4 linked regions of the Homo sapiens genome follow. The protein of the gene in region 3 interacts with the protein of the main gene of each other region in a biochemical or structural test. Each region holds a gene or a part of one and is shown on either strand. Other genes may lie near its edges.

What was found.
Region 1: of the proteins of RB1 (region 3) and CDK6, one has a biochemical effect on the other in vitro, tested with the Homo sapiens proteins (9 studies listed by BioGRID and IntAct).
Region 2: the proteins of RB1 (region 3) and EID1 form a complex in vitro, tested with the Homo sapiens proteins (5 studies listed by BioGRID).
Region 4: the proteins of RB1 (region 3) and HDAC1 form a complex in vitro, tested with the Homo sapiens proteins (9 studies listed by BioGRID and IntAct).

Annotation. Positions count from the first base shown.
Region 1 is NC_000007.14:92,721,554-92,728,582, forward strand, and holds part of CDK6 (cyclin-dependent kinase 6), read right to left. Parts: intron 4,241-7,029; coding exon 4,073-4,240; intron 1-4,072. UniProt on the Homo sapiens protein: Serine/threonine-protein kinase involved in the control of the cell cycle and differentiation; promotes G1/S transition. Phosphorylates pRB/RB1 and NPM1.
Region 2 is NC_000015.10:48,873,851-48,880,680, reverse strand, and holds EID1 (EP300-interacting inhibitor of differentiation 1), read right to left. Parts: upstream 2,548-6,830; 5' UTR 2,505-2,547; coding exon 1,941-2,504; 3' UTR 508-1,940; downstream 1-507. UniProt on the Homo sapiens protein: Interacts with RB1 and EP300 and acts as a repressor of MYOD1 transactivation. Inhibits EP300 and CBP histone acetyltransferase activity.
Region 3 is NC_000013.11:48,362,736-48,369,764, reverse strand, and holds part of RB1 (retinoblastoma-associated protein), read right to left. Parts: intron 6,951-7,029; coding exon 6,808-6,950; intron 6,578-6,807; exon of another isoform or gene 4,872-6,577; coding exon 4,794-4,871; exon of another isoform or gene 4,789-4,793; intron 2,272-4,788; coding exon 2,162-2,271; intron 1,239-2,161; coding exon 1,161-1,238; intron 1-1,160. UniProt on the Homo sapiens protein: Tumor suppressor that is a key regulator of the G1/S transition of the cell cycle. The hypophosphorylated form binds transcription regulators of the E2F family, preventing transcription of E2F-responsive genes.
Region 4 is NC_000001.11:32,316,066-32,323,094, reverse strand, and holds part of HDAC1 (histone deacetylase 1), read right to left. Parts: intron 6,431-7,029; coding exon 6,313-6,430; intron 1-6,312. UniProt on the Homo sapiens protein: Histone deacetylase that catalyzes the deacetylation of lysine residues on the N-terminal part of the core histones (H2A, H2B, H3 and H4).

The sequences.
Region 1 (7,029 bases), on a different chromosome or scaffold from region 3:
TGTGCATACAAGACACTATATTGAGCAGCAAGAACCCAATACCCCATAAAGACACCAGAATGTCATGTTGGAGGCAGCCTGGCAAAGTTAGGCAAAAGACATTTAACTCTTTGATTAGTCCTCAATTTATCAGATGAGGACAAGATAAGTCATTCAGCCCGATGTTGCATACCACCTACAGCTACAACTATGGTCCAGGCTACTGTCCTAAATTAATTTCTACCAAAGGCCAACATATGAAGTATATTCTACTTATGAAACTCGTGTTTCTTAACAAGAAACTTGTTTTCACTAGAAAAATAAAATAATAAAGATCATAATATAAAGGGTTATACCTTAAGATGCCTGGAAAGCTTACCTGTCTAGAACAACTAATTTCTCAATTAATCCAAAAGATGCCTTGTCTTGAATACTGGCATAGAGCATACTGGCTCAGAAATTAAGGAGAAGTAGTACTTCAGGATCTGTCAGGTGATCATGAACTTAAAATGAAAATAAATACTGTTAACTGCTCCCTCAAAGTTCTATATGTAAGAACATTTTGAAGTTTTCAGAAAGAAGCTAATAATACAAGCTTTTATAATTGTTCAAATAGAAATATCATTTATTATGTAAATATATATATATTAACATAGATAGTAAAAGTTGTCTAGTAATTCACCCATTCTTTCATTTAGAGGATGTTAATTATCTTAGAAGAATATGACTCCTCTTCTAAAACTTGCTTTAATAACAAAACACAAGGGGCTAAAGAAAGTCTTCAAATAAGTAAAATTACAATAATGCTACATTCCTCTATCTCTACAGCTTTCTGTTCAGGACAGGAAGTTCAATTCATATATGTAATTTGTTCCTGAGGCAGTAGAAAGGATTATGATAAAAACAATACACAGACTGTGAACTTGGGTTTGCGTCAACTTTTCACTCCTAACTTGAGATTGAGCTACAGCATGTATTAATAGCTTTCATGATTTTGAACACAGATATGTGCTGCCAATAAATCAATCAGGACTAGGGTGCAAAATGGACTCAGCCATTTTAAGGTATATGGAGTAAGTCCTTCAGCTTAATATTACCAGGTAGCTATGAGGAATATTGACACACATCAAATGAGACCATTAAATGTATAACATAGCTCCTTCTCTATTCCTGTTATGACTCAACTGCTTATATCTGCAAGTCAGCATTTGTCAATTTATTCACTGAAAAATATTTCCTGAGTGCCTATCAAAATAAACAAGGCACTGTGTGTTAGGGCTGAATAAGATGAGCATCTGCCTTCGAGGAACTTATGGCCTGATAAATAAAATTCCCAAATAACTAAAAACAAGACAGAAAACAGTATTATAGGCTGGGCACAGTGGCTTATGCCTGTAATCCCAGCACTTTGGGAGGCTGAGGAGGACGGATTACTTGAGGTCAGGAGTTCAAAACCAGCCTGGCCAACATGGCAAAACCCTGCCTCTACTAAAAATACAAAAATTAGCCTGGGGTGGCCTGTAATCCCAGCTACTTGGGAGGCTGAGACACGAGAATCGCTTGAACTCGGAGGGCAGAGGTTGCAGTGAGCTGAGATAGGGCCACTGCCCTCCAGCCTGGGCAACAGAGTGAAACTCTGTCTCAAAAACAAAAACAAACAAAAAAACCCAAAATATTACTCTGGAAACAGAGAGGAAAAAGAAATTAATTTCTGAAGGGGATACTAGAAAGGGTACCTCTGGAGTCAGGCTTTGCAAGGTAAGTAAAATACTAGCATTTCTCATAGTTTTAAGATGTCAGTTTTGAATCAGTTAACTTGTAATTCCTTTAACATTCCACAAATTAAGTTGATTCTCAGTTCCTGTATGACATAACCCACTAAAAAATGTGTATTTCCAGGAAGAGGAGTGTAGTCTTTTTCTCTTCAAGAGACACTAAAAATACATACCAGTTCAGTCTAAAAAACTATGATTCCAAGTTTTTATGTCACCATGTGTATATAAATCGACGCATTACTATATTAAATGGGTATTTCCTTTAAATAGAAAAATACAAAAGAGTGGGGAAATTTTAAAATGCAGTACCCTGTAGGAACATACCCTTTATTATTACCATTAAATTCCAACCGTCACTCTTTCCAATAAAGTCTGATTTTTGTTTTAGAATCCTTCTCAGCTGCTAACATGTTTTACTTATGTCACTATAGGAAATATAAAGCATGCAGTATAAACTAGATACTGAAAAATTGTGTATTTATGACTGCCTTTCTCCTTTTCCTCTATGAAATAATTTGTCTACATTTTCCTGTTTGAACATATCAACTTTCAGCAAGAATGGAATGTTAATTGATGTTACGCACAAGCTCAAATTTAATAAGCAAAAAAAAAAAAAAAAAATCAAACACAAACCAACTGGGTTTCCTGTTTTTATTTATGGTTATTAGTGCCCATTTGGGGGGATTAAAATAAAAGCGTCCATCTCAGTTACAGCTTATCCTTCCTTCAATTAACGTACCCAAGGAGACAAGTTCCTTCCATCTACTCCCCTGATGACTCTCTGGATCACAAAGCCTATTCAAGCTTCTCCCCAGGGCCCCAAAACAACATGCGCAACAACTTCCTAGGGAAACTCAAAGCCTACCTCACCCTTCCCACTGGGGAAATACACAGACTCAGCCCTTTCTGGTGTGATTACATAAGAATACAAGGGCTTGCTTGACCGTGCTCAAAGCTGAGGCCTATCTTTTAAACATCAACTCGTGCCATTTCTCCTCTAAAGCAATGGTGTATGCTGGGCAAAGAGGAAATGAGTAGGATTTATCTTCTAACAATGGCAACATTTTCCAAGGAATCCTCTGCATCAAAAGTTCTGATGCCCTAGGAAAAGTCTATAATGTTTGGAAAGTAACTGGTCTTACGTGTCTAGGTGGTAGCACCCCTATTTTGACTGGGGGCAGGGGGTGGGGAACACTTTTATAAATTGGATTTTTTCCTAAGGCAAGTTATCTGTCTCAGAGAATTTCTAACTCCTCTCTTGAATTTCTACTTATCAGCTGTAGTATTACTGAAATTTAGGGAAACAATTTTTTGCTGTGCAGAATGACCAAAGATGTTGCCAATCATTACTTAACAACAGGGCCATGCTGTCCCTGATGTGAGAACCACTTTGAGGCTAAAGATGGACAATACGGATTATTTTTTTTTATTTCTTTGAATATACAAAGATATTTTCTTTTTTAAAATTCTTTTTCTTAAGACTTAATTTGCTATATATTATTTATTTAATTTACTGTACGTAAGGCATGAATTTACTGTATGCAAAACAGGTCTTTCAAAGAGAAGGGTATTAATACCTATTTCCAGGCTGCTCTTTTTGTATTTGGGGTGCAGAATTTCACAAAAATCCATCTGAGAAATAATGAACTATATGGAGAAATAGAAGCTAACCAATGTCAATAGCTATTATGGTTTTGCAGCTGAATGGCAAAAAGAAACAGGGTATCATAACTGTTATTTTTTGCCAAAACAGGGCCGTTGGGTTCGCTCTTTCTATTCAGGGTTATATGAGCCTTCACCTGGCATGGCGGTGCTCTACGTTCATGCATCATCCAAGTTCACTGTGAATTTGATTTCTTCTTTACAGCTGGCACCATAGCTTCAGATGAGTGCATTAACAAACCTGTGTAGGCACTCTGTTTCTCAAAACCATGATGCTGCAGACAGGTCAACGTTGCTCGTGCTCTTTCTTCCCTGACCTTGAGCTGTGTGTTCCCTAGGCATTGTACATACAGCTCTGAAAACAGTGGTTATGGCAGAAAGCATTTGGAAACTTGTAACTGATTCCTGTCCAGTGGCTAAGATGCAACAGGCTATTTCTGCAATGGATCCTGTCCACAACAAGCCCAGGCTGGATGTGACTGTAGCTGTAAGCAGAATGCTTTCTGCCTACCCACTGCCATATAAAAATGGGCAAAGACATTCTATCCACCAACTAGTCATGGGCAGTACTAACATTAGAGACATGGAAGAGGGACAGACTGTCATTCAAAATAGGAAAAATAAGTTTAATAAAAGGACAGCACTCTCTCACTCACCACTGAGGTTAGAGCCATCTGGAAACTATAGATGCGGGCAAGGCCGAAGTCAGCGAGTTTTATTTGTCCGCTGCTGGTCACCAGAATGTTCTGTGGTTTTAGATCGCGATGCACTACTCGGTGTGAATGAAGAAAGTCCAGACCTCGGAGAAGCTGAAACATCATATCCTAATAAAATTAAAAAAAGAAAATCAGTAAACACTCAAAACGGAAGTTGAGCATTTGCTATGCTGGACGCCGAATCCTTAGCATTTTGTGGCTGCTTGGCATGCGGCAGGCATTTGACAGGTATTGGCTGAATGAGTGAATTGTCTCCCTTCCTGCCTTTCCACTCCCACACTTTCAAGAACACTGCAAAAAATTTCACTCTCAACCTGTATTTTATTAATGAAAGGACAATTTTAAAATAGTTTTTGATGGAATAGGAAACATTCTGGAAGGATATCTGCCAAACTGGTTTCAGTGGCTCATGCTGGGGAGAGGAAGGAGGAGGTCGTGAGGGGACACTTTTTGCTTCTCTATTGTTTAATGTGCCATTTCAACAATTAAAATCCAGTGAATAATAATATTGTTATTAATGGTGATTATTATTTTATAGCACCTAGTACTAAACACTCACTATATATCAAGCACTATTCTAAGCATTGTCCACTTAGTAAATAATTTAATCCACACCACAACATTTAGGTAAATAATATCATTACACCATTTTACAGGTCAAGAAACTGATACACAGATGTAGGCTACTAATTAGCCCAAAGTCATACTAGCAAGAGAGTGCTGATTAACTGTTTGTTTTTTTTTAAACAGGATCTTGCTCTGTTGCCCAGGCTGGAGTGCAGTGCTGTGATCACGGCTCCCTGCAGACTTGACTTCCTTGGCTCAAGAGATCCTCCTGCCTCAGCCTCCCAAGTAGCTGGGACCACAGGTGCATGCCACCATGCTAGGCTAATGTTTTTAGTTTTTGCAGAGATGCGATCTCACTATGTTGCCCAGGCTGGTCTCAAACTCTTGGGCTCAAGCTATTCTCCTGCCTCAGCCTCCCAAAGTGCTGGGATTACAGGTGTGAGCCACCATGCCCAGTCTTAATCAACTGTTTTAGAATATTAACAGAGTCTTGATTTAAACTAGGGTCTGGAAAACCTCGATTCAAATCTCCAATGTATTCCTTTATCAAATCAATGAACAAATGAATACGTAAAATAAGGCAAGCCATTTAACCTCTCTAAGGCTTAGTTTCCCTGTCTGTAAAATGGGACAGTAACAAAGCCCACTTTATCATAGGATCATTGTAAAGCACTTAGCACCATAGTTAATATTCAGTAAATGGCAGCGCTTATTACTGTTATTATTAACCAGTATGGAGGAGCGGATCATTCAGGATATAAACCAATATCAGATCTTTTTCTAATTTTAGGACCAATACAAATATACACAAGATTTAATACTCAGGGACAGTGTCTGAAGGTAGGAACTAAGACATTGGCCATGATGTCATAATCCTCTGAAATGTGTGGAAATTAAGAGTGACCTACTCCCCTGACCCAAATATTATAAGAATGGTGTATACAAGGGAGGATGGAGCTGTTTTGTTAATACAAGGGTTAGAAAAATGACTGGGTACCACCATGGATTTCAGAGCTGGAAGGGGCTGTGAGGATACACTTATCATTGGCCGGACCACTGAATCCTCTCATCGAGAACAGTATATTTGGTTACTGGTTTATGGTTTTGGTTCTTCCTTTAGAGTTCGGAGTTCTGTCTTTATATTTTAGCTTGTTCAAAACCAAAGCCTTAGTTTTTCCTTTTATAAAGTGGAGAAAGTAGCGATTACTTTTCCTACTATTAAGGGGGCTAAATGAAGTAATGTATGCCAAGTGCTTGTACAGTTTCTGGCATATGGTAAGCACTTGACAAACAGTAATTATTAGGATGATTATTGCCAAGATAAGTGTCCTGATTTCTGGGGGAGACTGATTCACAAACAACTAAAAGAAAACATGACCACTGCTACAAGGTCGGTGTGAACAAAGCACTTAGAGGGGGTATGCAGTGATCTAGAATCATTTCTGAGATCCCCCTGAGTGAATATTCTGAACTGGCAGGGGTGACCTTCTAAGCTTCCCAAAACCCTGGAGAAGACTGCATTGGGGAGGAAAAGCCCTTCAAGACTTGAGAAGCACTGCAGGTCCAATAAGTTGTAATGAATAAACAGGAGTGTGAAAATGTAGCACAAAATGTTCAAGGAACATTTTGGCAAATAAGTCTTTATTGGAAACACATGCACACAACTTGTAAGCACTGAATTTTAAAAAGCATGACTAACCTAAAGTAATGTCCTGTTGGCTCATCATCTTTAGCCTCTATACAGTTAAGTGTCACTCATTTAAAACAGTATAAAGAATAAATCTGTTTGGTTCATGCTGCAGTGTTCAAACAACTTTAGCAGCCAATTAGCAGTATACAAATTTAAAAACATGCACATCGTTTTTATTTGTGTTATAACACACACTATGTTTTTCTTAATTATAAAATTGCTAAGATGTATAGATGCATGCTTAATGCAGAAACTAATAAAATGTTTTAAGAATCCAGAGAAGAAGAAAAATCACTAAAAAATTCCACTACTTGGAGAACAGAGAAAACTTCACTGTTAATATAACTTTTTTTGTGTCTTTTTAGTCTGTCTTTTAAAAATTACGTATTTTATTATATTTGGATGTATAAGTATATTTAAGTAAAAGTGGTTATTATTCTGTACACATTATTTTGTAGCTCTTTTAAAAACATGTAACAATTCATTATCAACATTTTGCCACTAATAAAATTCTGCAATATGACTTTTTTTATACAATGAGATTTTTAATGGCTGCATGGTTTTTCACCCTGGGACATGCCATAATTATTATTATTCAGTTTTAGTTGTGTTACTTTGGCACTTATACTACAGGTCTAGT
Region 2 (6,830 bases), on a different chromosome or scaffold from region 3:
AGTCAATTGCAGAGCCCAGGTTTTTCTCCCCAAGATGGGCCTTCAGATGGAATAGTGTTTCCCACCCCCACCTCTTTGCCCTACTCAGTCCCAGAGAAAAACAGAATCACAACCTTCTAGTTTGTGGACCTCAGATTTTTTTTTCCAAGAGTTTATCTTTCCTAGTAAAGATAAACTTTCCTGGTAAAGATAAAGATCTGGAGGTAAATACAACCAGCCAGTTTATTGTGCACTAGCATACCCCCACCCACACTAATTTACATCATCCATGCAATTAATTACCTATCCACACTCATCTGACCGTAGCTGCACGCTAATTGAGAAAGCAGTGGAAGAGGCAGTAGGATTAAGTCTAAGCACCAACATTTTACTTCCACCATCTCTCCCTCCTAACCCAGCTAGTGTCTGAGCAATTCTGATCAGCCTTGTCACAGTCCTATCTTTTACAGATCTCTCTCCCCAAAAGACAGGATGACCATAAAATAAATAAGGCTCTGAATTGTCCTGTTGCATTGGATATTCGTTCTTTACTGCTATAATGGAGCAGAAGCATTTGGAACATTTTTACTGATCATGATAAAACCTGCTGATACACTTATTTTGCTGAACCTAGCCTTCTGATGTAATCATTACTCTCCTAGAACTTCAGCATCTTAGTAAGGTAACCACGGCAACATACTCATTGATAGGGCAGGTTTTCCCAGACCAGCAAATTCTTATAGGCAAAAACTTAATTTACAAAGTTTAATTTCCAGAAATTAATTTGTGAATTAGATAGCTGAAGCTGGATCATTTTCCCTTAATACTGGTTAACACATACAATAGAAAGTAGTATACAGAGAAAGTATGTATGCAATACTATTAGCCAAACAAAATACACAGAACAAGAAATTTTATTATCTCCAATGCTGGTGCATGACAAATAACAAGCTTAATTAGAGGAGGAGACAGAGGGAAACTTCAGATACCAAGGTAATTTCTGGGCAGGTTTAAAACCTTTAAAAGTTGATAGAATAACTGTTCATAAAGTCTTTTTAGATATAGCGCTTTTTACTTGACAACTTTTATTAACAGTTCTTACAATATGAAGTTCAACTAAAGTCCTTCATCTGTCAAGTTAAAACAGCAAGCAAAACAAAATTTCTCTAGTATATAACAGCATAAGCAATGGTTTGTTTTCTTTGTACATTCACACACATTTAGTGTCTAGATTTGAAACTTTTTAATTAAGGATGTCTTAATTTTTGACTTTTAAAAATGGTTATGACAATGGATTTTCTTGATTTATAGATCACAGTGGCTTTATAAATGATCAAGATACATGTACAAACAAAATTTCAGATGCTCTTGGAAACACATCTTAAGATACAAAGCACACGTGATACATATTTGAGTTTACTCATCCATTTATCTTACACTGAAAATGTAGCCTTTGATAACTGTGGCTTGACTAGATCACAAAATAGAATTTTCCAAGTTTTCTTAAGCTTTCAGTCCAAATAACTCAAAAGATATGTGTCCTAGTTGGATACATTTTTTTCTCATTATATAATTAGTATCAGTGGGCTTTTGTATTGGCAGTTTGTCTTGGTCATGACTTATTCTTGCAAAACCATCTTTACAGCAAACAAATATGAAAGATATTTTCCCCAATGCAAGGAAAATAATCTGGATCAATAACAAAGTCAAAGCCATAGGTGTTTTAGGACGTTCTTGATAATTGATTTCAACGGTCTTAAAATCTTTTTTCTTTTTCTTTAATGATTCTCTTCCTTTTTCACAACTGTGCAGTCACTGTCCTATTGTGTTCTATTCTGAAAAACAAATTTTTTTGAAGGTCAAGTTTTTCAATGGCACAAAACTATTTGGAATGAACCCAAAAGATAGCGGAAAGTTGGGTCCCTCCTCAAGTAGTTTCCTCCTCTTTTAACAGCATCTAACTACTCTCTATCAATAATCTCATCACAGCCGAGTTCTTCGGTCAGACGATTGACAACCATCAGTGAAAAAAGCTCTTCGATAAAAGCTAACTGATCAAACGGGGTCTTCTCATAATGCATCTGAAACCCGCCATCCAGGGCTGGTTCTCTTGTTCTCAGAAACATCTTGTCGGCTTCTTCAAGAGCGGCTGATACTCTGTAGCCGGCACCACTGAGCTGCTCCTCTTCGGGATAGTCGTAGTCGTCCTCCCAGTCATCAAATTCCTCGCCCTCGTCCTCGCTCTCGAAGTCTGCGCCCGCCACCTGGCCTGGCTGCTCCCCAGCGTTGGGCCCGTTAGCAAGGCTCCGTTTCCCCTCTGGCGCCGCCATTGGCTGGGCCTCCTCCTCCTCCATTGGGCCTTCCTCCTCGAGCTGTTGGGCCCCGCTGCGGGAGGGACGCAGGGATAGCTCCCGGCTCCCGCTGCCTACCTCCATCTGCGGAAGGTCACCCTCGCCAGGCATCACATCCATCTGCAGGTCACTGCTCTCTTCATACAGCTCGGACAACTCAGCCATTTCCGACATTGTGCAAACCGCTCAACCTCTAGGAAAAAGCTTCCAGCAAGACAGATGCTGCGCGGCCGTGCGTTCGTGCGCGTGCGCAAAGGCTGCGCGCTTGCGTAACCCCGCGCGCAGGCGTGGTCCTCAGGTACCGCCTCCTACTTGGCGCGCCACTGTGGTTGGAGTAGCTCAGTGTTTTCTCCGGGGTGTTGGCGTCGCCTTTTGAGCTACGTTTCCATCGATTCGAACTTCGTATCTAGGGACCCTGCATGCAAGAGCGTAACAGTTTCTGTGTTACTTAACCCTACTGCTGCTTGTAATGCTGCAAACCGGAAAATAACCTTACATGGCCTTCGTAACATTTAATGCTCCTTCCCCCCCTTCCTCTTCCCCTGGGCAATTTACCGATGTACTGATGACTTGTAAATCCACGTCTCCAAACCAGACAACATCCATAACCACAGATCAGCATATTAAGAACTAATCCATTTTGTCCTTTTAGTGTTTTCATTTAAAAAGTTAAATTCACAAACAACAGATATATTGTACTTTTTTTTTTTTTAGTTATAGTGAAGAAATACTTGGTCCCATTTCTTTTCGCCTGGGAGGTATCTTTCCACTATTAGCAATGCGGTGTGTATTCTTTGAATTCTTTTTATTTGCATTTACATGTATCTTTATGTATTGACAGCAAAATACTATTTTGTGTGTTTTTTAAAAACATGTTTTACCTGTTTTTACCTTCAACTTAAAAGCCTCAGGTTTTAAGTTGTATATACTTATATGAATTATATGACTGTGTATACTTACAGGATTCAAGCACATTTCATTTATTCTGCACTTTATTTCTATTATTATTACATTATAGTTATGTAGAATTATACAACTCACCATAATGTAGAATCAATGGGAGCCCTGAGCTTGTTTTCCTGCAACTAGATGGTCCCATCTGGGGGTGATGAGACACAGTGACACCCGAGGTGTGTTCCTTATGTCCGGTCTATTCTGTAATCTCATTTTGGTTGCTGTTACTGTGGAAAATCCTGCCTCACAAAGATAGGATGTTGAAAATGGAAGGAGGCTTTTCAGTACTTTTGTGGCAATCTCAGGATGTTCCGCCTTGACTTTAATCGAGAACGTATGGAGATTTGAAGTTGTCTCAAACATACTTTTAAGGCCACCGTCATTTGCAATATCAAGCAGTTGATCCTCTTCTAGCGTGGACAAAGTGGATTCACCTGGCTTATTCACAAATGGGTCACAGATCCATTCCGTCTTTTGTGGATGAGAAGTGTGATGGTTAATACTGAGTGTCAACTTGATTGGATTGAAGGATACAAGTATTGATCATTGGTGTGTCTGTGAGGGTGTTGCCAAAGGAGATTAACATTTGAGTCAGTGGGCTGCGAAAGGCAGACCCACCCTTAATCTGGTTGGGCACAATCTAATCAGCTGCCAGCTTGGCTAGAATATAAGCAGGCAGAAAAATGTGAAAAGAGAGACTGGCCTAGCCTCCCAGCCTAAATCTTTCTCCTGTGTTGGATGCTTCCTGCCCTCGAACATTGGATTCCCAAGTTCTTCAGTTTCAGAACTCGGACTGGCTCTCCTCTCTCCTTAGCCTGCAGACAGCCTATTGTAGGACCTTGTGATCATGTGAGTTAATACTTAGTGAACTCCCCTTTACATATATATACATATATATGTGTATATGTATGTGTGTATGTGTATATACGTGTGTGTGTGTGTGTATATATATATGTATATATTCCATTAGTTCTGTGCTTCTAGAGAACCATGACTAATACAGGAAGTAATGCTCAAAATATTTTGAAAGCTGAGATAGGTGATCATGCACCAGCTGGGAGAAAGAAGACCCTGGCTCAGTCTCTTTCAAAATCTCTGCTAATGTTTGAAATGTCAGAAATCCCAGTGTTCATTTGTCACCCGCATGATTCCAGTTTGGCTTTGAATGCAGCCACCTTATCTGCCAAGTTGAACACAGTTGTTGTTCGTCCCTGAAGTGACAGAGTTCACTGAGCAGGTTGAATATGTCACACAAGTAAGCAAGTTTTTTTGTGACCCATTCTGTGTCACTGAAATGTGCCGCCAATGGTGACTGTTTTTCTACAAAGAAATCTCTGAAGCAGCTCTCTTAACTCAAAAACTCTGGCCAGTGATCTACCTTTAGAAAGCCATCTCACTTCTGTGTGTAAGAGAAGACGTGTGTGCTCTGCATCCATCTCCTCACAGAGCTGCACAAACAGATGTGAGTTAAGGGCATGTATAATATGGTTGATAATTTTAATCACATACTGCAAAATGTTGTTAAGTTCAGGTGACATTTTCTGACTAGCCATCATTTCTCTATGGATGACATGGTGCATAGACTCACATTCAGAAGCGACCTCTTTGACCTGAGTAGTGAAACCAAAATGCCATCCAGTCATGGCAGCTGCTCCACCCATGCATATACCGATGCAAAATGACTGATTCCACTTTCCTGATATGTAATCATTCAAAGACTTGAATAGTTCTGCATCTGTGGTGCTGGTTGGCAACAAAAGTGCATATAGCATATCCTCATTCACATCCTCCTGCAAAATATATCACACACAAAAAAGCATTGTTCCTTTCTAACAATTGTGCCTCATTATCCTCTGATATTTCATCAGTTCATCTAGTTGTGGTGCTAGCCAAAAGAGGAACACATGCCACCTTTTGAACTGCAGCCTCTCCTGAAAGTTCATGACAAATGTCCTTAGAAGCAGGCAGGATCAACTCTTCATCAATAGTAAAGGACTTCTTAGCTTTAGCAATGTGGTTAGCCACTAAGAATGATGCTCTCAGTGCAAACACATCTGATGAAGTGGTGGCCTTCAATAATTTCTTCTATTCTTTGTGTTCACATTGTTTTCTTTTGAAAAACTCCAAAGGCTTAGTATTAATGCAGGGTGTGTGGTCTCCATGTGACAAAGCAGTTTAGAAGGCTTCATGGCTTTGTTAGATAGCCACTTGCTACATGTTATGCAAAGCAAGCTTGGATAATGTGAATCACCTGTTGTAATGAACTGGTATTTTAAGTAGGACTCTTGATATTTTCTTTTAAATGCAGCTTTATTTTTGTTGGCAGTCTTAAAGTCTTCTGCAGTCTCATCACTGGATCTTTCCCCCTTTTCAAAGAACCTCTCCAGTGAAGTTTGTTTTTTACTCATTTTGGCTAGGGTTAGCTTATGGGCTTACCAAAACTGTGACCGAGAAAGTGCATGGTGCAGGAAAGAGACATGGATGGGAGTGGTAAATAAAATAATGGGCGGGTCAGGAACAAACTAAAATAGTCGGATTCAGACTTAAAGCCTGCCATCAGCTGCAGCTGTACAACTGAAGTACATCAACTCACTTGCCACTATGTAGCCTGCCACCAGATGCAACTTAAGTGTCACTTGCTACTTACCGATAGGGTTTTGATATGAGTCTGCAAGCAATTGATTTATTATGGTCTCTGTGCAGTCAAACCTCTCTGCTATTGTTAATCTGTATTTGCAGCCACTCCCCAGCACTAGCGTCACCACCTCAGCTCTACCTCAGGTCATCAAGCATTAGATTCTCATAAGGAGCATGCAACCTAGATCCCTCGTATGTGTAGTTCACAATAGGGTTCATTCTCCTATGAGAATCTAATGTCGCCACTGATCTGACAGGAGGCAGAACTCAGACAGTAATGTGAGCAACGGGGAGCAGCAGTACATACACATGAAGCTTCTCTTGCTCATCCACTGCTCACCTCCTCTGCAGCCCGGTTCCTAACAGGCCACGGACTGGTACTTGGTCTCTGGCCAGGGGAGTCGGGAGCCCCTGCTCTAGTTCTTCTCACCATGGACACATGATTTCTGGCTGACTGCTGCTTGGTGTCAGATTTATCATAGACTAAAAGTTCTTAAATACATGAGTCTATTTTTAGACTTTGAATTCTTGTGACATTTTTACAGTTTTATATCTTGCTGTTTGATCAGGAATATTTTGTCTTTGTTCTTTAAAAAACTGCGCTAACTCTTCTTGTGCATTTATTCTTTCATATGAATTTAGGAGCATCTTGAATGTGATATTATAATATTTCTTATTATCTTATAAGGGAATTCTTATGCATTTGTTCTTTTAAAATTTGCTTTAGCTGTTCTTGCACATTTATTCTTCCATATGAATTTTAGAAGCATTTTTATTGGAATTGCATGGAATTTATAAATTAATCTGGGGTAGGATTGACACCTTTGTAATACCATCTTCTCATCCATGAGAGTGATATATATCTTTCTACTTGTTCAGATCTTATTTATACTCTTCAGTGAAGTTTTC
Region 3 (7,029 bases):
TTGTGCTGAATGAAGAGTAGCAGTTGGTAATCCATGGAAAGAAAAGGAGGAAATTTCAAGAAGAGGGAATATCAAGTACGAGGGTTTTCAAAAAACTTGGAAAGCCCAAGAAACAGAGAAGGCCAAAGTGTGGCTAACACAGAGTGAGAAAGAAAACAAGATGAGGTTGGAGAGGCAACAGAAACCAGACCATATAAGATCTTTTAGGCATTGTTAAGGAATTTGCACTGTATACCAATTGCAATGGGAAGCAGTCAGTGGGTTTAACAGCAAGGTGAATGTAACTGATTTACATTTCTAGGAGAAATTCTGGGGGCTCTATGGAGAATATCTTTGATGGTGAGGAGACAGGAACAATGATGAGACCAGAAGGAGCAAGATCAGGTAGTAGGCTACTGCAAAAAATCCAAGAGAAAGAGAACAATGTCTTGGACAAGAGTTGTGAGAGCAGAAATGGAGAAAAGTAGATGCACTCAGGAAATATTTTGGAGGTAGATTATTCAACAAGCCTTGATAACAGATTTTGATGTGGGAAATGAGTGAGGAAAAAGACATAAAAAATAGTTCTAATCCTTTAAGGTTGCATGCAGATCAAATAGTGATACTTTAATTTTTTCTTTTTTATTTACTGAAATGGAACACATTCCTATTTTAGGTTATGTTCTTTAAGAACAGACAAAACTAGGTCCAATAACCATATCTTCAGCAACCAGTAAAATGCCCAGCACACAAAGATTATATATACACATTTTTTTTTTGAGACGGAGTTTCGCTCTTGTCACCCAGGCTGAAGTGCAATGGCACGATCTCAGCTCTCTGCAACCTCCGCCTCCCGGGTTCAAGCAATTCTCCTGCCTCAGCCTCCCGAGCAGCTGGGATTACAGGCACACACCACCACCCCCAGCTAATTTTTGTATTTCTAGTAGAGACGGGGTTTCACCATGTTGGCCAGGCCGGTCTCAAACTCCTAACCTCAGGTGATCTGCCCGCCTTGGCCTCCCAAAGTGCTGGGATTACAGGTGTGATCCACCACACCTGGCCTTCAATATATATTTCTTACATGTATGTATGAATACATAAAGAAACGTGAACAAATCTGAAACACTATAAAGCCATGAATAACAAAATTATAATATAATTAAAAGTAGGAAAATTCATACCTAACTGGAGTGTGTGGAGGAATTACATTCACCTCTTCATCAAGGTTACTTTTTCGTGGTGTTCTCTGTGTTTCAAAACTAAATAACAATAAGTGAAGTCATTCACATACTGAAAATTTACAATTTGTGCTTTATGCATCAAAAAAGCAGTATAATGCTTCTGTTGTCTCATAAAATCATATAAAATGATAACTCAATAATAGATAGGATAGAAAATAGATGACCCAGCTGCTGCTTAAATAAAATATTTTTCACTACTCTTTTTAATTGTGGGTCTCTTTCCATTATGTTTATGACAAAGAGGTATACCAATCATTAAGTCTTTTTTTAAAAGTGAAAGTCAGATGCTTTCTCCCTGGTGGTATTGATAACCAAGTTGTTCAGTATTAAAAAGCATTAAAACTCAAGTTTTTCAATGCATTATTCCTTCTAAAAACTTTATTTCCACTTAAATAAAATTTAAAACATTTTACTGTGTTTAACTTCTAAATTACGCATATTTTCAGTTTCATATTAAAAGAGTTCATGCTAAAGACACAAAATTAACTTTACTTATGATCAGTCAAAAATTTTAACAATCACTCTCAACCATTCCAATTTTAGGTTTCTACATGATAATAACAGAGACTACACTTTTGTATAAACTTTTTTAAATAAACCAGGCAGGCAATAGTATATGAAAGGATAGAAATAAGGTAGAGACCACTATTTGAAGAAACTAATTACTTTAGCCATTATCTTTTGGTGCACATTTTAAAAAATTATATTCAGTTAACTGCAAAAAGGTAACTGTTATAGGACACACAATTCACATTAAATCTATATTTGTAGATAAGTTATATGCTTAAAATACTGTTAAACTTTTCTTTGTATAAAGACATTTGAAAGTAATTTGTTATAAATGATATCTAAAGGTCACTAAGCTAAAGACTATATAATCTACCTATATCAGTATCAACCTATATCTAAAGCAAATCAATCAAATATACCATGTGCAATACCTGTCTATAGAATCAGTCTGAAGAGTTTTATCATGATCCAAAAATAATCTTGCATCTAGATCTTTATTTTTAAGATAAATTTCTTCGTATCGTTTAGAAAGATTTTCAACCTTGAAAGAAAAAAGTCACTGACAATTATCCTTTACATGTCATTACATCTCTCAGCACACAGAGGCACAGATTTCATTAAAGAATTTTTGTATAATATACATTTAATTTTGTAATATACACTGAGTTCGCATGCAATATAAATAAGGTCTATCTAAAAGTGAGGTACAGAAAATTGCAACATTTGTTCAACTTTGATTTTAGGTCTATTTCGTGCATAGAAAATATTTATTAGAATTTTATGTAGACAAAGATAGCCAATGCTACAAAACAGTACCTAAGATAAAAATAGGTATTATAATAACTGTTTAACTGCCAAGATTTTCCAAACATCCCATATATGCTTTACTTTTAATCTTTTTTTTTTTTTTTTTTTTGAGATGGAGTTTCGCTCTTTCGCCCAGGCTGGAGTGCAGTGGCACAATCTCGGCTCACTGCCACCTCTGCCCCCGGGGTTCAAGCAACTTTCCTGCCTCAGCCTCCCGAGTAGCTGGGATTATAGGTACCTGCTACCATGCCCGGCTAATTTTTGTATTTTTAGTAGAGACGGGGTTTCGCCATGTTGGCCAAGCTGGTCTTGAACTCCTGACCTCAGGTGATCCACCTGCCTCGGCCTCCCAAAGTACTAGAATTACAGGCGTGAGCCACCGCGCCCAGCCTGCTTTTAATCTTTTATGCTTATCAATATAAAATATTTTTTCAAACATTGTTGCAAATCCTCTTGATTACATATTCTACCAATGTTTTCTAAACCCTTTGGTTCACTCCAGTACCCTTCAGTTAAGTATCTTGGGCAAGACAATTAGCTCAATTTATCAGTTCAATTAACACACTTGCACAATTTATTCCCAATCTTAGATACTTTTTCAATTGCTAGAATTTGTAAATCTTTCATCAGTTCTGATCCATAATTTTTTAATTATACTTTAAAAACCAATGCCCAAGAGAAAACTATTGGCATGCCTTCTACTGTGACTTTTAACGCCAAAGTGATTCCAACCTCAGAGAAGTAAAATTGCATTTTAAAAGGAGTGATAGGAAGAAATCCAATTAAATGCAAACTTTTCATTAATCTTCATAAATGTATTAGATAGAACAGTAATCCATGCTTATGTTTAATCATTGTTCCTGTCCTACCTTAGTTGAGGCACTAATTACCAGTCATCTATTGATTGGCTATATTATGTGAAATATTGGAGAAAAAGTAAAATTACTCTTAAGATTTATATTAAAACTATAATCCTTTTAAAGGAGAAAAAAAGATTGCTACAACAGATTTTAAAGTTATGAACAGCCTAGTTTTTGGTACCAAAAGTGGTAACAAGACTCATTAATATAACATTTGGTCCCTTCTTGCCTCTTCAGTACCATATTTTAATTGTTCTGCCCTGTATCCCAACCTTAATGAATTACTTAGAGTTCACTGATCAGACCATACTATCATACATCACTGCACCTTTGAATCTACAATGTCCAACCCTTGGAAATGCTATATCTGTAATGCTTACTCAGATTTGAAATCACATCACCTCTAAACTATTTTCCACAAAACCTATCAGCCCTAGTTTGGATTAGGTAGCTCTCCTTTGAGATATCACAGAACCCTGTGAATACTTTTTTCACACTCTTGTAGACTCCTGTAATGCTCTATTTCTTTGTCAGCCTCTCCCACTAGCACTTTAAGGATAGTGACTGAGAGTGAAATCTCTGTATCCATAGTATCTAGCACGTGCCTGACATATATTAAGCATTCAAAAAATATTTGTTGAATTAATAAATTAATTCAAAAACTAGCTATCAATTCAGGTTACAGAACTAGCAGTCTAGCTATTTTATTTCATGCCTTTTGGTCATAGTGACTAATACTATGTCTTCTAAAACACTGGTTTTGTTCTTCATCATCTATCACAGCATCCTTTTCTCCACATATTTCGTCTTACCATGCAAAGCTCTCAGTTATTCTGTTCTCATTGGAAAGACATTTGTAGCAAAATGCGAAACAAAACAGGTAGATGGATGGAATATCACTAAGGTAAAACACTTCTGCAATAGTCACAGTCATTTCAACAAATACATTTGTATTTTCAATTAAGCAGTTCTTAAAAATCCTCAAAAGAGATGTTCCACAATGTAGTAATGCCAATAATGTTGATGGCATTAATCATGGTTCCTACGCTTAATGAGGCTTACCAAAGCAAATTTAATGGTTTATATTTAGCTATTAAAATTTAGCTATTTAATGGTATTTAGAAGTTTAAAAGTCTATACTTTGATTTTGGAAAAAATTCAATAAAGATTGATTTCTAGTATAAATCACAAAATGATGCTAATACATTTGATTATATACTCAAAAGCTTTTTGTTACTATACAAAAGTTAGTTTCACCACAATTCTACTTGGCTAGATTCTTCTTGGGCAAAAAAAAAATGTGATACACAGTAAATTGATCTAAGAAAGTTAGACAATTATCCTCCCTCCACAGTCTCAAAACATTAATATTTTATTAAATTTCCTTTCAGATTACCTCTGGAAGTCCATTAGATGTTACAAGTCCAAGAGAATTCATAAAAGGTATAAAATTTTTGAAATAAACATTTTTCACCTGAAAAAGATGAAGTTACAACATGATCATTAAAATTTAAAACAAAATCTAATCTCTTGACTCTTGAACAATGCAGGGTAAGTTAGAGGTGTCAATCCCCCATGCAGTAAAAAATCTGTGTATAACTTTTTTATTTTTTATTATTTTCTTAGAGAAGGGGTCTCTCTATATTGCCTAGGCTGAAGTGTAGTGGCTATTCACAGGTGCAATCACATGCATTACAGCTTCAAATGCTTGGGCTCAAGCCATCCTTCCACCTCAGCCTCCCAAGTAGCTGAGACTACAGACCTATCGATTACTTTTGAGTACCCAAAATTTAACTAACAGCCTACTGTTGACTGGAAGCCAACCAATAACATAAAGATTGAATTCACATATATTTTGTATATGTACTATATATACATACTAAATATATCATCTTCTTATGATAAAGATAGAGAAAAGAAAATATTAGGAAAATTGTAAGAAGACAAAATACATTTACAGTAAGTTTATGTCATCTGTTAACAAAAATCGTCCGCCTGAAACAGCAGGCATCTGCAGCTACAGTTTTGTATGTATTTTATGGTATAGTAAATGATAAAATAGACTAGTATCTACATATATTTTGTACATTCAAGACATGCCTTTTTCTTAATTTTTTCTGTATTTGTAGGCTACACGGTTTGCTACAAATTTTTTCAAATTATTGCAAATCTCCAAAATTTTTTCTAATATATGTAATTAAATATATCTGTGTATAAACGGACCCATGCAATTCAAACCTGTTGTTCAAGAGTCAACTGTATATTTGTTGAAATTAGTAAGCCATAGTGCAAAAACTATGATATATCTTGATAAATCATTCTAATACTTCTTAAACTAGATTTTAGGACCACACTCTCACTCCTTCCCAAAGTTAACAGAGAAATTTCAAAGATGTAACATTTTTTACTGCTATCTGGTGTTAGTGATTGTGGACAATAAAACAAACTATGAGAAAAACTGTATGGTAAAAAGGAAAGAAGCAATAGTACCAGATATCCCAAAGTCTAATGTAGACGCTGTAAATAATAAGCTATCAGTCCCTGGAAGCTTGTTTACTCATTATAAAAAGGAGATTGAATACATTATTTGTAAGATTCCTTCTAACATCCACATTCTATGAACAAGACAAGTAATTCCTGGGAATTCATATGTATTCTCCAGCAGTCATTATGTGCTGTAATATTTAGAAAGAGAGTAATTATAGAAGGCCAAACAGAAATTTAATGTTGGTATCACTTATCACTAAACTAAAACACTAGAGCACTAGAGTTTTCTAAGCAGGGCTTTTTTGGTTTGTTTGTTCGTTTTTGGAGACATAGTCTCACTCTGGCGCCCGGGCTGGAGTGCAGTGGTGCAATCATGTCTCACTGTAACCTCAAACTTCTGGGCTCAAGCAATCCTTTTGCCTCAGTCTTCCAAGTAGCTGGGACTACAGGCACATGCCACCATGCCCAGTTCATTTTTTTAAATATGTATTTTGTAGAGACAGAGTCTCGCTATGTTGTTCAGGCTGGTCTAGACCTCCTGGCCTCAAGAAATCCTCCCACTTCGGCCTCCCAAAGAGCTGGGATTACAGGTGTGAGCCACCATGCCCAGCCTTGGCAGGGTATTTTAAAACATTAGGGGTATCAGTAACCTCAGAGGAATAAAAAAAAAAAAAAACTACATTTGAAAACTATTGTCTTGATTATATACTTTTCAGTGATTCCAGAGTGAGGGAGCTACTCTCTTTAAAATCAAAGTAACTAAATATAACGAATTAATTTTTTCTAAATATTTTGCTACTGCAAAAGAGTTAGCACTAATTACAAAAAAAACATGCTCATAACAAAAGAAGTAAATATTGTTAGGGAGAACTTACATCTAAATCTACTTTAACTGTTTTAAAGAAATCATGAAGTTAAATTACCTCATCTATATTACATTCATGTTCTTTACAGAGAACTTCAATAATTCTTGTATCATTTTCTAGTTGTTTTGCTATCCGTGCACTCCTGTTCTGACCTCGCCTGGGTGTTCGAGGTGAACCATTAATGGGTATAACAGCTGTTTCTGTAAAAGTGGTAAATTAGATAAGAACAATTGTACATCCATCATATAAAATAATGAAGTATTCTAACTATAACTTAGG
Region 4 (7,029 bases), on a different chromosome or scaffold from region 3:
TCCTGACCCTGTGATCCGCCCGCCTCGGCCTCCCAAAGTGCTGGGATTACAGGCATAAGCCACCGTGCCCAGCCAGCCTGTCTGTCTTAAAAGCCTGTGAAAATATATCCCGGCCCTTTTCCAAGTCCTTTCACATATACAACCTCATTTGATCCTCACAACAACTCTATGAGCTGGACAAGCCAGATATCAACCCCACTGTGCGGAGGAACAAACAGATACCGAGAAGTTAAGTGATTTGCCCAAGGTTATAAAACCAGGCAGTAGCAGAACCAGAATCAGGGTCCCGGTGTCTTGACTCCCGTAGCCCAGTGTCTTACTGCTACATTCACAGTGACAAGTGGAGTAAAGTTATTTCGGGCCTAATGGGGTAAAAGTACCAAGTAGTACATAATGTGGAAACATATGCAAACAATAAGGCAAATGAAATGAAAACAGGAAGGAAAGCACACCTGGAGGCTGTAGACTCACAGACCTAGAGGAACTTTATAGCTCCAAATCTCCTCTTACAGAAAAGGTAACTACTGGCCGGGCGCGGTGGCTCACACCTGTAATCCCAGCACTTTGGGAGGCCAAGGCAGGTGGATCACTTGAGGTCACGAGTTCAAGACTAGCCTGGCCAACATGGAGAAACCCCGTCTCTACTAAAAATACAAAAATTAGCCAGGCATGTGCCTGTAATCCCAGCTACTCAGGAGGCTGAGGCAGGAGAATCACTTGAACCCAAAACGTGGAGGTTGCAGTGAGCCAAGATTGCACCCCTGCATTCCAGCCTGGGTGACAGGGCGAGACTCCATCTCAGGAGAAAAAAAAAAAAAAAGTAACTGCTGAGACATCAATGAGCTACAGGAAGTCAGAGGCAGGAGGTGTGGGGCTGCATACTTATTCTCTTGCCCAGCCTTCTACTGTACCCACTGTTATCAAGATTTCCAAAAGTAGAGGAAGGAGCAGCCCTGGGGTGAGAGCAGAAGAGCTCAGTTTGGATTGTGCTGGTAAAATCTCAAGACACAGTTGAAGCTCAAGATCTACAATAACCACAAGAGTTACCAGCTCTGGTTCTGCACTAAACTTGGAGGGTGCCAAGATCCGGTGCTCTGAGGAAGAAGCATGGCTGCATGAGGGAGTGTGCAGCGGGTGGGTCTCTTCCTCACTTCCTGGGTAAACACTGGGAGGCTGTGTAAATAAGAACTTTGGTCCCTGGGCCCCGGCTGTTTATCCATTGGCAACTGATTTCCCTCTCTGGCCACTTCCTCCTGCACAGAGTTTGGCCTGCCTGCGTTTCCAAAGCTTTGTTTATACTCTTATTTGGGATATGGAGCCTCCATGGGAAGGAATGGGTGTTTTGGACGTGAGAAAAAAAAAAATATTTTTCTTCAGGCACCAAACCAACATGTAGCTCAAATGACCAGCCCTTTTATTCCTAGTCAATAAGCTATGTGATTAGAGATGGAAAGGGGGCAAATGGAAGAGCAGATACTCATGTGAGCTAATCTGTGAGGGTAGGGAAGACTTTTCCATGGGTTTTCTCTCTTTCTGCTATAAACGCTTTTCTCATTCTCACACTAGCTTTAGACTAAAGGGAAGCAATACTGGGTGAGAGGTGGAAGCAGACGTAGGCAGAGAAGGCAGTCAAATGCTCATTGCAAAGAGATGGGAAGATTAAACACTAACCTCAGGATAGTGCTTATACCTTGGCAGTGCTGGTAATGGGGTGGGGGGCTGGGGGAGTGGGAGAGAAAGGGTATGTGATCAAGGAAAGATGCCCAAGGGGGCATCAACTGTATTGATAATGTTTTCTTTCTCAGGCTGGGTATTGGGCACACATGGATGTTCATTATATTATTATTATTATTTTTTTTTTTTTGAGACAGAGTCTTGCTCTGTTGCCCAGCCTGGAGTGCAGTGGCGCAATGTCAGCTCACTGCAAGCTCCGCCTCCTGGGTTCACACCATTCTCCTGCCTCAGCCTCCCAAGTAGCTGGGACTACAGGCACCCACCACCACACCCGGCTAATTTTTTGTATTTTTAGTAGAGATGGGGTTTCACTGTGTTAGCCAGGATGGTCTTGATCTCCTGACCTCGTGATCTGCCCGCCTCGGCCTCCCAAAGTGCATTATATTATTTTTTGATGCTTTTTGTGTGTGTCTAAAATATGTTTTTTTCTTTTTCTGTTTTTTTTTTTTTTTTTTTTTTTTGAGATGGAGTCTTGCTCTGTCGCCCAGGCTGGAGTGCAGTGGCGCGATCTTGGCTCACTGCAACCTCTGCCCTCCAGGTTCAAACAATTCTCATGCCTCAGCCTCCCGAGTAGCTGGGATTACAGGCATATACCACCACACATGGCTAATTTTTGTACTTTTGGTGGAGACAGGGTTTCACCACGCTGGCCAGGCTGGTCTCAAACTCCTGGCCTCAAGTGATCCACCTGCCTCAGCCTCCCAAAGTGCTGGGATTACAGGCATGAGCTACCCTGCCTGGCCTGTGTATCTAAAATATTTTATATACACTATATTTTTTAAAACTACAGAATTGGGGGACTAGAGTTCCATTCTGCATTCTACCATCACCTTGCTGTGTGACTGGGAAAGTTTACATGTCTGTAAAATGGATGAGAATGTCTCCCAATTTTTTACCAATCCCTTTTATCATGTTTTCACCAAAAGCCCCCTAAATGCATTTATTTGTGTTCCCATTTTCACTTGCTAAATATTAGGTCAGAACTTCTGGTCAAGGCTCTCAAAGTGACCAGAAAGGGTTTATTACATTTCAGCCACAAGCAAGGAAACCTGATTTACTCGATCTTATCATAAGCATAACTTCCTAGATTAGGTGTGTGGGATGTTTTTGTGTGTGTGTGGGTTTTTTTTTTTTTCTTTTTGAGAAGGAGTCTCGCTCTGTCGCCCAAGCTGGAGTACAGTGGCGTGATCTCGGCTCACTGCAAGCTCCGCCTGTCGGGTTCACACCATTCTGGTGCCTCAGCCTCCCGAGTAGCTGGGACCACAAGCGCCTGCCACCACGTCCGGCTAATTTTTTGTAAATTTTTAGTGGAGACGGGGTTTCACCGTGTTAGCCAGGATGGTGTCTCGATGTACTGACCTCGTGATCCGCCCACCTCGGCCTCCCAAAGTGCTGGGATTACAGGCATGAGCCACCACGCCTGGCCATGTGTGTTTTTTTTTTATTGAGACGAGTTCTTGCTATGTTGCCCAGGCTGGAGTGTGGTGGCGAAATGAGACCATACCTCAATGCAGCCCTGAACTGGGCTCAAGGGATCCTCCTGCCTCAGGCTCCTGAGTAGCCAGAATCACAGGCATGTGCCACCATACACAACTAATTTTTTATTTTTATTTTTTTAAGATAAAATAAGAGATGGGGGTCTCACTATGCTGCCCAGGCTGGTCTTGAACTCCTGGCCTCAAGCTATCCCTCCTGCCTTGCCCTTCAAAGCACTGGCATTACAGGTGCATGCTACCATGTCCAGCGCCTAGGTTAGATATTGGTACATATTCTAAAAGGGCAAGTTAAGGATTAAGGAATTTGAGGCTGCAGTGAGCTATGATCTTGCCACTGTACTGTACCCTGGATGACAAAGCAAGACCCCATCTCTAAAAACAAGAATAAAAATAAAAATAATTCTTTTTTTAAAAAGGGCTCATTACTGTCTTGGTAGATACCCCAGGTTATAAAGCACTGTGTTAAGTGACATCTAAAGTCTCTGTCTACTCTGACCCTCCATAACCCTACAAATCAACTCAGTGAGGTACTCTGAAGTTCTTAGAGAGGCTTATTCTTCCTGCCCCCATTTCTGATGACAGAAAAATCCAAGACCTAATTATTTTAATTAGAAAAATTTTTTTTAGAGACCAGGTCTCACTATATTACCCAGACTGGCCTTGAACTCCTGGGCTCAAGAAATCTTCCTGCTTCAGCCTCCTAAGTAGCTGAGACTATAGGCACCCAGACTGAATTTTTTTTTTTTGAGACGGAGTCTCGCTCTGTCGCCCAGGCTGGAGTGCAGTGGCGCGATCTTGGCTCACTGCAACCTCTGCCTCCTGGGTTCAAGCAATTCTCCTGCCTCAGCCTCCTGAGTAGCTGGAATTACAGGCATGTACCACCAAACCAAGCTAATTTTTGTATTTTTAGTAGAGATGGGGTTTCACTATGTTGGCCAGGCTGGTCTCAAACTCCCGACCCCAGGTGATCTGCTTGCCTCAGCCTCCCAAACTGCTGGGATTACAGGCGTAAGCCACCACACCCAGCCAGACTGAATTTTTTAATGTACAACTTTAGAATGCTGGATTCGGAAAAATTGGCGCACCAGAGCAGAACCTGCACACTCCTCAGGGCATAGCATTTTGTCTGCCTTGATAAGTTTGTAAATAATAAAAATAGTAAGTCATAATAGCAAAAGTGATTATGCAATAGCAAAAATAGCAAAAGCAATTCATTGAGGGTAGACATATTATATATATTTAAATATATTATCTTCACTTATTCCCCCATCCTTGACTATGAAATAGGCACTAATGTCTTTTTTTTTTTGGTCTCGCTCTGTTGCCCAGGCTGGAGTGCAGTAGTACAATCATGGCTCACTGCAGCCTCGACCTTCCAGGCTCAAAAGATCCTCCCTCCTCAACCTCCTGAGTAGCTGGGACCACAGGTGTGCACCGCCATGCCCAGCTAATTTTTTTATTTTTTTGTAGAGATGAGGGTCTCACTATGTTGCCCAGGCTGGTCTCAAACTCCTGGCTGGGCTCAAGCAATCCTCCCACCTTGGGCTCCCAAAGTGCTAGGATTACAGGCATGAACCGCTGTGCCTGTCCTGTCTTCCTCTTAAAGAGGGAAAACAGGTCGGGCACAGTGGCTCAGGCCTATAATCCCAGCACTTGGGGAAGCCGAGGCTGGCATATCACCTGAGGTCGGGAGTTTGAGACCAGCCTGACTAACATGGAGAAACCTAAAAATACAAAATTAGCCGGGCGTGGTGGCACATCCCTGTAATCCCAGCTACTCAGGAGGCTGAGGCAGGATAATCGCTTGAAGCCGGGAGACGGAGGTTGTGGTGAGTAGAGATCGCCCCATTGCACTCCAGCCTGGGCAACAAGAGCGAAACTCTGTCTCAAAAAAAAGTGGCAGGGGCGGGAAATAACACCAGAGGGGCTAGGAAACCAAGGATTCAAACTAAGACATGAAAGCTTATTTTCTTACTTTAATAGCAAGTTGCTCCTCTAGTGAGAGCCCACTGTGCTGAGAGTAGAGCCTGATCCTTGGCCTAAATGGGTTATGGAAACCTCTAAAGCCATCTACAGGAAAGGCATGAATTTGCCTCATCTTGGAGGGAAATAAGACCCTGCAATTCAGAGAGCAAACACCTCACTCACAGCAGCTGGCAGCTCCTGGAGTTGTCGGTAGCAAAGAAGCTTAATGCTTCAAGGAAGGTCTCTGTGGTTCTGCCATCAATACCACTGTACAGTTATTATTAGTTGTAATAATAGTTATAAATAACTTTCTTCCTTGGGAGTAAGACTACCTTGTGGTCAGCAGCAACAAACAAGTGCCGCATATTTTCTGACACTTCCATATAAGCTGTCATAAGTTAATCAAAACTTCTTCTGGACAGTGCTGTTATACTATATGAAGTCTTAGGTGCTAAGAGATAATTTCTAAAATAACACAAGGGGGAAGTCAGGTATGATAGTTTTGTCCCAAATTTGAATACTTTTTTTTTCCCCCTCACAGCTAAAATAATTCCCACGATTCCTACAAACTAAGCGTGGCTTCCAAGATGGGACCTGCTCTGAAGTTCAAGTCCAAGGGATCAGGGGCAGCATCACCTCATCTCAAAGATTACACCATCTAGAATCTGTCCTGAGTGGCCTCTAAATTCTCAATTAATACCCACTAAGTCAAAACAGTTACAGTTGGACAGAAATCAGAGATCATGTGGCCCAGCCCACTTTACAAAAGAAGAATCTGAGGGGAAGTGACTTGCCCACTCAGCTGAGAGTTAGAGTTAAATTTTACTGTATCTATTGTCTCCCCGTCCCAGGTCAGTGCTTTTTCCACTACAATAATTACAGTACTCTTGGGACAGTGTTGTGAACATAACCAGAAAAAGTACTACCTCTATCGTTTACAAATCAGGAAACATGAAAAATCCGACTTGAGGGGAAAAAGCACTCTGGCACCTTTAGGAGGTAGGGGAAATCAGGTGTCCACTGAATGGGAGGTGCGAGGACGGCAGAATGGGCCTCTACAGTGGAAAGGGAGATGCAACTGGCGGCTTCAGAGTGTGAGGGAACAGAATGGACTTACATCTCTGCATCTGCTTGCTGTACTCCGACATGTTATCTGGACGGATGGAGCGCAAGAATTTAATGTAGTCATCGCTGTGGTACTTGGTCATCTCCTCAGCATTGGCTTTGTGAGGGCGCTAGAGGGCAGAAGGGAGAAAGGGCAAGTTATTTTTGACCACGGCCAGTCCAGTCAATCTAGTTTGAATATTTATATTTCCTGCGCAGCATGGAGCTAGGTGCTATAAAGAATAAAAAGAAATAACTGGTTAGATTCAGGCTTCAAGAAATTTACAATCTAACTAGGCAAACAAGATTATCAAAGGAGACAGAGTATCAGAAGACCTACAGCAGCTCAAGCTCTGTTGCTTAGGCAAGTTACTGTCTCTTGAACCTCCATTTCCTCATTTACTAAACAGGGACAACATAGACCACACAGGGAAGTTGAGAGAATTGGAAGAGGTTGTTAAATCTCTTTGTAAACTGTAAGGTGCTTTACAAAATTATTACTTTTTTTTTTTGAGACGGAGTCTCGCTCTGTCTCCCAGGCTAGAGTGCAGTGGCGCAATCTCGGCTCACTGCAAGCTCCGCCTCCCGGCTTCACGCCATTCTCCTGCCTCAGCCTTCCAAGTAGCTGGGACTACAGACGCCCACCACCACGCCCGGCTAATTTTTTTTGTATTTTTAGTAGAGACAGGGTTTCACCGTGTTAGCTAGGATGGTCTTGATCTCCTGACCT